Linked DNA regions of Homo sapiens: region 2 is linked to region 1. The links come from fine-mapping of genetic effects on plasma protein levels. A gene starts in region 1. The other region holds a variant in brackets. All regions are shown on one strand. Distances are from middle to middle.

What was found. A credible set is the group of variants that fine-mapping cannot tell apart. PIP is the posterior inclusion probability: the model's chance that the variant is causal. The UK Biobank Pharma Proteomics Project read protein levels with antibody pairs (Olink). The fine-mapping took linkage between variants from a reference panel, not from the people measured, so its PIPs are less certain.
Region 2: its variant is the best candidate, but not a certain one, in a credible set for the plasma level of the EPHA2 protein (UK Biobank, PIP 0.88). The variant lies in the coding sequence of EPHA2. If it changes the protein, the assay may bind it differently, which can mimic a change of level.

The regions. Positions count from the first base shown.
Region 1 is chr1:16,153,442-16,158,941 of GRCh38, forward strand. EPHA2 (EPH receptor A2) reads right to left here and starts at 2,628. Exons shown (of 17, transcript NM_004431.5): 1 at 2,407-2,628. The coding sequence starts at 2,491. EPHA2-AS1 (EPHA2 antisense RNA 1) reads left to right here and starts at 1,774. Exons shown (of 3, transcript NR_187275.1): 1 at 1,774-2,314; 2 at 3,530-3,738.
Region 2 is chr1:16,133,239-16,138,238 of GRCh38, forward strand. It overlaps EPHA2 (EPH receptor A2), which reads right to left. Exons shown (of 17, transcript NM_004431.5): 5 at 4,615-4,947; 6 at 2,417-2,532; 7 at 1,798-1,951; 8 at 1,230-1,329; 9 at 622-677; 10 at 243-368; 11 at 1-130. Among named protein-coding and RNA genes, the nearest start is that of EPHA2-AS1, 19 kb to the right of the region's middle. The variant C/T (reference allele first, on the strand shown) is at 4,756.

The DNA.
Region 1 (5,500 bases):
GCACTCTCCAGCCCTCTTCCCATCAGCAGCACCCCAGCTCAGCACCCCCTGCCACCCGCCCAGGCCCCTGCCCAGCTATGCCTGCTTCCCAGGAAAATCTACCATGACACCAACCACAAAGCAGGCAGGGCCTTGGCTCTGGCAGCCAAGAAGCGGGATGCTCAGGTCTGGTCCTCTGTCCAGAAGGCCCTGGTTGGCAAGGGCTCGGGCCTCCCTCAGTTTCCCCATTTGTAAAAATGAGGGCAGATTCAGTGGCTGTTGATGACCTAACAGGAGCCACGTGGGCAACCAAGTATAGCCTAGGGGTGAGGGGGCAAGAAAGAAGTCTGAAGCAGCCTGGGGGTAGGTGAAAAAGGCACCTGTGTCCTCCTGCCTGCCCCCTAAGCCACCCCCAGGCAGACCCACCACATACAGCCTGATTCCCAGGAACTGAAACCAGCAGCTGCCAGCTAGGCCATCATGCCCACCCCCACCTAGGCACACTTCTCTAGGGACTCTTTCACGGGGACTCAGAGTCGAAGCAAAAATGTACCCCCACCCCAGTGCAATACACAAGCCTTTCCCCCTGCATCCCATGGGGTGTGGGGGTGGGGTTTAATCACACAGGCTGGGGAGAGGTGGACACAGGGGACAAGGACAAGGCAGCTCCAGGCTTCCAGGCCAGCTTGGGGACTGCAGCAGCAAAGCACCCGCCTAATCCCCCACCCCCCCATGGGCAGCCGAGGAGAAAGGCCTATAGTGATTCCAGCTGTCTCTCCCCTTCTCTCCAACCACAGTCCCCCAGGAAGGGGGAGGACCAAACGTTGGTGGGGCGGATATTGAGGGTGGCAGAAATCCTTGCCATGAGCTCCTGCAACCAGAAGTCCCGGTTGAGACCCCAACCCGGGCCCTGTCACTCCAGAGACTGAGACAGGATGCCACCCCCAACACCTGCCACTGCCCAACGGCTCCAGATCCGGCCTCTTTTCCTCCCAACACAGAACAGCAAAACCTCCAAACCCAGTTTGGGAGGCAGAAAAAGAAGGAAACAGGCCGGGGGTGGTGGCTCATGCCTGTAATCGCAGCACTTTGGGAGGCCGCGGCGGGTGGATCACCTGAGGTCAGGAGTTCAGAATCAGCCTGGCCAACATGGTGAAACCTCGTCTCCACTAAAAGATGCAAAAATTAGACGCGCCTGGTGGCGGGCACCTGTAATCCCAGCTACTAGGGAGGCTTGAGACAGGAGAATAGCTTGAACCCGGGAGGCAGAGGTTGCAGTGAGCCGAGATTGCGCCATTGCACTCCAGTCTGGGCAACAAGTGCGAAACTCCGTCTCAAAAAAAAAAAAAAAAAAAAAAAAGAAGGAAACTTCTCACCGGCCCAAGTTTCCTCCCGGCTTCCCCCTTGTGGAGCCTGCGGAAACCTCGCTCTGCCCAGGCAGGAGGGGAAGCCTTGCCCTCACTGTTGGAAATTGAAGCTGGCCTGGGCTGGGTGGACAGGAAGGTCTTCGGCCAGGGCAGGAGCCCCCATCCTCGCCCTGACCCTAGCGGAGGGACAACACCCCCACCACGCACCCGCTGCGCCATGAGCAAAGTCTGCGGCCCCTCACTCGGCGCGGCTCCGGGAACACTGGGGCGGGGGTGGGTGATTCAGTCCCCCACCCCCGGGTGTCCTGACTCCCTGGTGGCCCTGGGCTGACAGCTCCACACCTTGGGAGGCCGCACCCCCACCTGCCGCATTTCCTCGTTCTGAGTCACCCTTGCTCAGAACGCTTGACTTTGGGACTTCCTGTCCGCACTCGCGGCCCCTAACCTGCCCCGGGAGCCCGGGAGTGCGGCTTGGGAAGGAGGGAAAGGAGTGTGTGAGCAGGGATTGGCCCGAACCTATCTCCACGCTCTCCCCCGGGACTGGAGGTGAAGGGGGGCGTGGAGAAAATCTCAGGGAACAGGGGCTTCGACAGGGGGCTCCCGCCCGCCCGAGCCCCCTCCCCAAAATGCGAGGCCTGCACAGTATGCCTTCTCCGCAAAACCTCGGCAAGCGGGTTAGTGAATTCAGGTCACTAAGAAGCTGAGCCCGCGGAAAGCTGCCCAAACACCCCCTTCTCTAGGGGACTCCCCACGCCCCCCGCCGGGACGCGTTCCCGAAGTCGCCGCCTGGACTGCAACCGCGTGGCCTGCGCCGCGTCCTCTTCTCCGCAGCCTCCGAGGCCCGTGCGACCAAGCTGAAACCGCTTATTCTCCGGAGCCCCTATGACCCCGGGTGGGGGCCAGGGCTCGCCTCGATCGCAGCCCGTGCGCCCTCCGGACTCCAGTTCGCCGGGACTGGGCGACACCAGGTAGGTTCCAAAGTTGCGCGCGTCAAGGAGCGCCGGGCTCTAGGGGGCACTGGGGCCCGGGGGCCAGGGGTCCAGACGCCGCGCGCACTCACCTTCCTTGCCCTGCGCCGCCGCGGCCGCGGCCAGCGCACAGCCCCACAGCAGGGCGAAGCAGGCGCGGGCTGCCTGGAGCTCCATGCCGCGCTTCTCGCTCTCGGTCCGATCCCCCCGAGCCCGGCTCCCGCACACCCGCACGCCTGCACGCCGGCCTCGGTGTCCGCTCCCGCCCGCCGGCCTGCGCGCAACTTCTGCCCCTCCTGCCCCGAGTCCTTAATGGAAGTTGGGTGAGAACCGACTCCTGTTCATTCATGCCCTGCGTGACGTCACCAACGCCCGCCCTCAGGAATGTCTTTAAAGGGGCCGGGCTGGCACCCGGAGGAGAGGGAGGGGAAGTCCGGAGGGGTTTGGAGGAGGACCTTGGGGCCCTCTGGACTCGCGGGCTCCCCGCAGGCCTTCCAAAGTTTGAGCGTCTCAAAGCGCCAGCGCCCCTACGGATTAGCCCCCAGGGATCTCTGAGCCTGGTATCCTCGGTGGAAACGTTTAATGGTTTTGCGCTGAGCCATACCCATTCTGCCCTTCACCTCTGAGACTGAGCTCAATGCGACTGAGCTCAACGCTGGCCTGAAGGTCTGAGCTGAAATGGATTGGGGGTCCAATAAGCAGTTGCCTCCTAAGCAGCAGGCCTGAGAGAGTGGCCCAGAAATAGACCTGGATGCCCTCCTTCCTAAAACCCTTGAAGAGTATATCAAGCTGCTGATGGTCAAAAAGAGTATCTCTGTTCAGAAGCCTATAAGCCTACTATGATCTGAGAATAGGTTCATTTCCTCTGGGAATGGATCAGACATGCACTATCTTATTTATTAATAATTCTCATCTGGGAGGCAGGGGTCATCATCCCCATGTTACAGAAGAGGAGACTGAGGCTCCAAGAGCAGAAACAACATGCCCAAAGGGTGCACAGCTCACGGGTAGTAGAAGCAGGATTTGAATCCTGGTGGTCTCTGCTTGAACCACTGCTTCTTTTTGGGGAAGGGGGCAAGGGGCACCCCTGGCCCCCGACCCTGGCATGGGTTGATAGGTTTTGACAGTTTGGAGGACACCTGCCTACCACCTGCCCCTTGATAAGGCCTCTTCACAAAACTTCCTCAGACATGAGCTCATCTCCCTTCCTGACAGAAGCGGCTAGTGTGAGTGAAACAAACGGGAAATTTGCTCTGGCCCGCCTGCCCAGCCACCCACGGCTGCCTGTTGGCCAATCACCATTTGACCAGTCCAGGAAGAGCAACTGTGGCAGGCCTGATTTCCTGGGAGGCCCCAGACTCCCTTTGCCTACCTCTTCCTCTCTGACCCCATCCTCGCTTTGATGCCCGGGACCTGCTACCCAGGTACGTGGGTCTTCTCTGCCGGATGTGGACATCTTGGCCTCTCGCCTTGGTGCCTACTCTTGGGAAGCGGGTCCAGACATCTCTCCTGCAGGAAGAGAGGAAGGGTTAATTACAGGCGTTGGGGATAATTAAAGCCTTTGACCAAGAGGATGGGAGGAGAGCCTTGGTCCTCTGAGAGCCTGTGAGTGTGCAAGTGCCTGTGAGAATAAGTGCATGTGTATGAGGGTGTGAGATTTTGTTGAATGTGCATTCGTGTGTATAGACATGAGAGTGTTGATGTATGTATGACTGTGTGTGAGTGTGTGTATGGACATAAGTGTTGTATGTGACTGGGCAGGGTGGCTCAGGCCTGTAATTCCAGCACTTTGGGAGGCCGAGGCAGGCAGATCATTTGAGGTCAGGAGCTCCAGACATGCCTGGCCAACATGGTGAAACCCCGTCTCTACTAAAAATACAAAAAAATTAGCTGGGCGTGGTGCCACTCACCTGTAATCCCATCTACTAAGGAGGCTAAGGCAGGAGAATCACTTGAACCCCAGAGGCAGAGATTGCAGTGAGCCGAGATTGCGCCACTCACTGCACTCCAGCCTGGGCCAGCAAGACTCTGTCTCAAAAAAAAAAAGAAAAAAGTGTTGGTATATGTGTGTATAAGTGTGTGTGCATGGGCATGAGAGGATTTGGGTATGAGTGTGTGTCTGTGTGTGTTTTTGTGGATTGTGTGGATGTGTCTAGATGTGTGTATGAGTGTGCATGTGGGTGTGAGAGATTTGTGTATGAGTGCATGTGAGTGTGGATTTGTGTATGCATGTATTTGTGAGTGTGCCATACTTCACAGTAGATGTGGAGTCAGCCCATGAGTTTCTGAACAAGTTATTTCACTTTTCTGAGCCTCAGTTTGCTCCTGGAAAGATGTAAAGCCTATTTAGGAGAGTTACTGTAAAGATCAAATAAAGTCATGCATGTAAACCACAGGGGCCAGGACTACAGAAAGCACGCATGAAATCTCAGCTGTTACTGGGTTACATGCGGTTCAGCAACAGGAAGCCACATCCGTGGAGAGCAGGGCATGTGTTGTGCCCAGGGCTCTGTGGACAGGCACATGGGGTGTGTGGATGAGTGTGAGCATGTGTGTAGTACGTGGTTTGGATAAGTGTTTTGCATGTTGTATTGGAGCCTCTGGGCTAGGGACACTGGCGTGTGTAAGACTCCATGTGAGTTGTGTGGAAGCCACTGCTTGTACATGTGTGTTACATGCCACTTGCAGGCTCCATCTGTCAGATGTGTCACTAGAGGACACACTGCAGGAGGACAGGGATGTTTGTAGAAAACAGACAGTGCCTGGGCCAGGCGCGGTGGCTCACGCCTGTAATCCCAGCACTTTGGGAGGCCGAGGCAGATAGATCACTTGAGGTCAGGAGTTTGAGACCAAGCTTGTCATCATGGTGAAACCCCGTCTCTACTAAAAATACAAAAATTAGCCGGGCGTGGTGGCGCATGCCCGTAATCCCAGCTGCTCGAGTTGGAGGCAGGAAAGTCGCTTGAACCCAGGAGGTGGAGGTTGCAGTGAGCCGAGACCGCGGCACTGCACTCCAGCCTGGGTGACAGAGCGAGAGCCAAAAACAAAAAAAGAAAACAGACAGTGCCTGATACATACTAGATATTCAGCAAGCCTCCGCTGAATGAATGAACTAATGAGTGAATGACAGTGTTGCGAGTTCTGTGTTGCGTGAAAGTCTCTGTGTGTAGTGTTGGTTGGTCCTTC
Region 2 (5,000 bases), 20 kb before region 1:
CCGGCCTCGCCGAGGAAGTCCACTCGCTGCTTCTCTGTGTAGCCGGCTTTCAGCGTCTTGATGGCCACCGGCACCTCCTTCTTCCCCGAGGATGTCTTCAGCATGCCCTTGTACACCTCCCCAAACTCTCCTGTGGGCAGACAGGGTCAGGGGAGTGCCCTGGTCAGCCCCGGCATGAGGGCTCCCACACTGTGTCACCACCGCTGCCTCCTCAGGGCCCCTTGGCAGGGGGCCAACCTCACCTGCTCCGATCACCTTCTGCCGAGTGACACAGGATGGATGGATCTCGGTAGTGAACTTCAACACAGCCTGGTTGGGGTCCTCATATGTGTGGGGGTCCACGTATGTCTTCAGGGGCTTCAGTTGTTCTGGAAGGAGAAGGGGTGGGGTCACAGGCAGCTCAGGAGGGGCCCCATGGGGGGTGCTCTGGAGTCAGAGGAGAAGGTCACGTGATCTTCAGAGACTTGGACCAGGCTGTGGGGGACGGACCCCTCAGAGCTGCCCACGGAAGCCTGTGGCCCCACCCCAGTGCCCTGGGAACACCCTGGCTGCCCCCACCTCCCCCACAGAGCTGGGGACGGTGCGGGCAGGGCTGGGCCTGGAGCGGGGGCTGCGTCTCACCTGACTTGGAGAAGTAAACGTCCTCCGGGGACTGGCGGGCACGCTGGTTCTTCCTCCTGAAAGAGCCCCACGGGGAACCAAATGCAGGGAGGTCAGTGAGGTCTGCTCCGGCCAGGGAAGCCTCCTGGCCCTACTTTGGTCCTAGGAGGACCTGGGGTGCTCAGAATGCGGCCCAGTCCCCGCTTTTGCTGCCCAAGCTCCACTCTCAGGGCCGAGGGTGCGGAGAAGGCGGGTGGAGGAACAGGGAGGAAGTGAGCGAGCCAGGACTCCCTCTCCAGGATCTAGGCCCCAGAATGGCCCCTTAAGCAGTCGTGACGAAGGCATTCCCATTAGAGCTACTCGGGGATTCCTGCCTGCGTGTCCAGAGGAAGTGTGGACACATCATTAATAACAACAAGAGCAGAGGTAATGACCCCCGTGTCCCGGCCCCGCCGCGTGCCAGGCACTTCGCTACACACTCTAACTCGTATATCCTCGCACCATCCGGAGGCAGGGATTAGACTCGACTAGCATCCTGTGGGCCCCATCGTTCAGATGAGGAAATGGAGGTTCCTGCCCCATTTTCCCACCCAAGCCCATGTGGAGCCAGGGTATGGGCTCTGACGAACCTGCGGTGGATAAAGAAGCCAACTCCTGCCAGCACCAGAAGCAGGACCACACCGACAGCCACGCCGCCAATCACCGCCAAGTTGCCAGATCCCTCCGGGGCTGGTGGAAGAAATCAGCTGATGACAAGGGAGTTCCCCCACAAATTACAGCAACACCCGCGCTGCACCCAAGACACCTGGGCCCCTACTGTGTGCTGGGTGCTTGCACTTGGGAAGGCTCCAGAGGGTACTTAGTCCCATTTCATAGACGGTCAAGCGGAGGCCTTCCCGAAGGTCTCACGGGAGGTATTGCAGGTATGTGGGGCTCAAAGCTCTGGCTTTTTCTGAGATGCGGATTTGAACTTCCTCACACCACTGTCGTGAATCCACATCCCGGCTCCTCCACCCCTCAGCCTTCCATGCTTCCCCCTCCCCAGGCTTGGGGGCAGTCCCCGAAGGGCTGTCCCAGGCCGCCGGTGACCGAGAAAGGGGCATTTCTAAGTTATTTGATTCACTTCCTTTCCCAAGATGTCTCAATTGCTTGGTTCTGGGCCCTGGCCTGGTCCATGCCCAGGGTCCCCCAACTCACACAGCGTCTGGAATTCGTGCACCTTGCTGCCGGCCCCCTGGCCCTCCTGCGTCAGTGCCTGCACCTGGACCAGGTAGGTGGTGTCTGGGGCCAGGTCGTCCAGGGTCACGGAGAAACCCTCGGTGCGGCGCACATTGTAGCTGTTGGAGTCTCCCTGTGGGTGGGTGGCCGGCGGAGGAGCAGGCAGTGAGGGCAGGGCAGGGGCCTCGGCTCAGCCCGCTGGAGACCACCCCAAGCTAGCAAGGTGGCTTGCCTTTGTTAGCAAACTTGAGGCTCTTCTTACAGAGGAGGAAACTGAGGCTCGGAATTAAGTGACTCACTCAAGGTCAGAACCACTAAATGCATGAGCCAGGACTCAAACTGAGTGTGTGGGGTCCCAAAATTCTGCCCCTGTCCTCACCCTGACTGCCTCTTCCAAGGACGCCATGTCTTCTCTCGTACAAATCTCTGCTGTGCTGCCTTGGGAGATGTAACCCCCTGGCAGACCCCAGGCCTCAGTTTCCCCATCTGCAGAAGGGTGCTTCTTCAGATGGCTGGGTGGTTTGGTGATCATCTATGTGACCAGCCTGTCCCCTGCTGTCGGCCCAGCTAGAGCCAGCCCCGCCCCTCTGGGAGTTACCTTCTTGCGGTAAGTGACCTCGTACTTCCACACTCGGCTCTGCTGCGGCGGGGGGATGCTCCAGGAGACGCTAAGCGAGGTGGTGCTGCGGCCCTCCAGCCTCACCTTGGGGGGCTCTGGGCAGGACAGGCAGTGGGGGAAGTGGGTAAGAAGCTGCCTACGAGCAGGCAGGGTTTGGGGGGACAAGTGGACGTGGAGCCACATCCTCCACAGCCCAGATTCTTTCATTTTTTTGAGACAGGATCTCGCTCTCTCACCCAGGCTCGAGTGCAGTGGCATGATCTCGGCCCACTACAGCTTTGAACTCCTGTGCTCAAGTGATCCTCCTGCCTCAGCTTCCTGAATAGCTGGGGCTACAGACACATGCTACTGTACCTGGCTAATTTTTGTATTTTTTGTAGAGATGGGGTCTCCCTATGTTGCCCATGCTGGTCTCAAATGCCTGAGCTCAAGCAATCCTCCTGCCTCAACCTCCCAAAATGCTGGGATTATGGGCGTGGTCACCACGCCCAGCTCCCAGGCTCTTTAGATCCCAACCTAGGATCCTAAACTTTCAGCTCCAGAGCACAGGGCCAGAGCCCCAGGCCTCCACCCTGGCCCCATCACAGGGGCTGGCACATCAGAGGTGCCCCATATTTACGAGTGCATAAATAATAATAATAATAATAATAATAATAATAAAAGGCCAGGTGTGGTGGTTCACCCCTGTAATCCCAGCACTTTGGGAGGCCGAGGCGGGAGGATTGCCTGAGGTTGGGAGTTCGAGACCAGCCTGACCAACATGGAGAAACCCCGTCTCTACTAAAAATACAAAATTAGCTGGGCATGGTGGCGCATGCCTGTAATCCCAGCTACTCAGGAGGCTGAGGCAGGAGAATCACTTGAATCCGGGATGCAGAGGTTGCGGTGAGCCAAGATTGTGCCATTGCACTCCAGCCTGGGCAACAAGAGCAAAACTCCGTCTCAAAAAAAAAGAAGAAGAAGAAGACAGAAGAAGAAAGAAGAAGAAAAGAAGAAAAGAAGAAGAAAGAAGAAGAGGAAGAAGAAGAAGAAGAAGAAAAGAAGAAGAAGAAGAAGAAGAAGAAGAAGAAGAAGAAGAAGAAGAAGAAGAAGAAGAAGAACTAACTTTTGCTGAATGCTTTCTTTTTTTTTTTTTCTTTTGAGACGGAGTTTCGCTCTTGTTGCCCAGGCTGGAGTGCAATGGTGCGATCTCGGCTCACCGCAACCTCCACCTCCTGGGTTCAAGCGATTCTCCTGCCTCAGCCTCCTGAGTAGCTGGGATTACAGGCATGCGCCACCACACCCAGCTAATTTTTTGTATTTTTAGTAGAGATGGGGTTTCTCCATGTTGGTCAGGCTGGTCTGGAACTCTCGACCTCAGGTGATCTGCCCACCTCAGCCTCCCAAAGTGCTGGGATTACAGGCATGAGCCACCGCGCCCAGTCTCAATTCTCAATTATTATCCCACTTTACAGGGGAGAACATTGAGGCCCAGAGAGGTTAAGTAACCTGCCCACAGTCACAGAGCTCAGAAGCGGCTCTGGAGCAGGAGTGTCCAATCTTTCAGCTTCTGTGGGCCATAATGGAAGAATGGTCTTGGGCCACAAATAAAATACAGCAACACTAACAACAGGTGATGAGCTAAAAAAAAAAAAAATTGCAGGCTGGGCGCAGTGGCTCACGCCTGTGATCTCAGCACTTTGGGAGGCCGAGGCGGGCGGATCGCAAGGTCAGGAGATCGAGACCAGCCTGGCCGACATAGTGAAACCCTGTCTCTCCTAAAAATACAAAAAATTAGCTGTGTGTGGTGGCACGTGCCTGTAATCCCAGCTACTCCAGAGGCTGAGGCAGGAGAATTGCTTGAACCCGGAAGGCAGAGGTTGCAGTGAGCCGAGATCAAGCCACTGCACTCCAGCCTGGGCAACAGAGCGAGACTCTGTCTCAAAAAAAAGGGAAAAATATTGCAAAAATAATATCATAATGTTTTAAGATAATTTACGAATTTGTGTTGGGCCGCATTCAATGTCGGCTGGGGCCACATGTGGCCCACGGGTTGGACAAGCTTGCTCTAGACACTGTGCCTTTAACCACTTGCTCTGCTGCCTCTCTCTAAACACACCCGAGCCCCAGATGGCCGTCCTCCTTAAGCCCCACCTGGGCAGGCCCCATAGGGCACAGCTGCCACCCCTGGACCTCACCTGTCTGGTTGATGCTGACACTGGCAGTACGGAAGCTGCGGCTGGTTACCAGGCCTGAGACGCCATTGCGGGCCTCCACGGTGAAGGTGTAGTTCATGTGGGGCTCCAGGTCGCTCACTGTCACACTGGTGCGGGTCAGTC[C/T]GTGAGGAGGCTCCGAGTAGCGCACACTGGCCTCACACGGCCCGCATTCCCCAGACTCGGGCCAGCACTGTTCGCAGGTGACGCTGTAGACAATGTCCTCGCGGCCCCCGCTGTCCTGAGGGGGCGTCCAGCGCAGCTCCACCTTGGCACCCATGCCCACGGCTGTGAGGTAGTGTGGGGCGGAGGGGGGTCCTGCACAGACAGGAGGAGTCAGTGCTGTGCTGGACCCAGGCGGACACGTCACC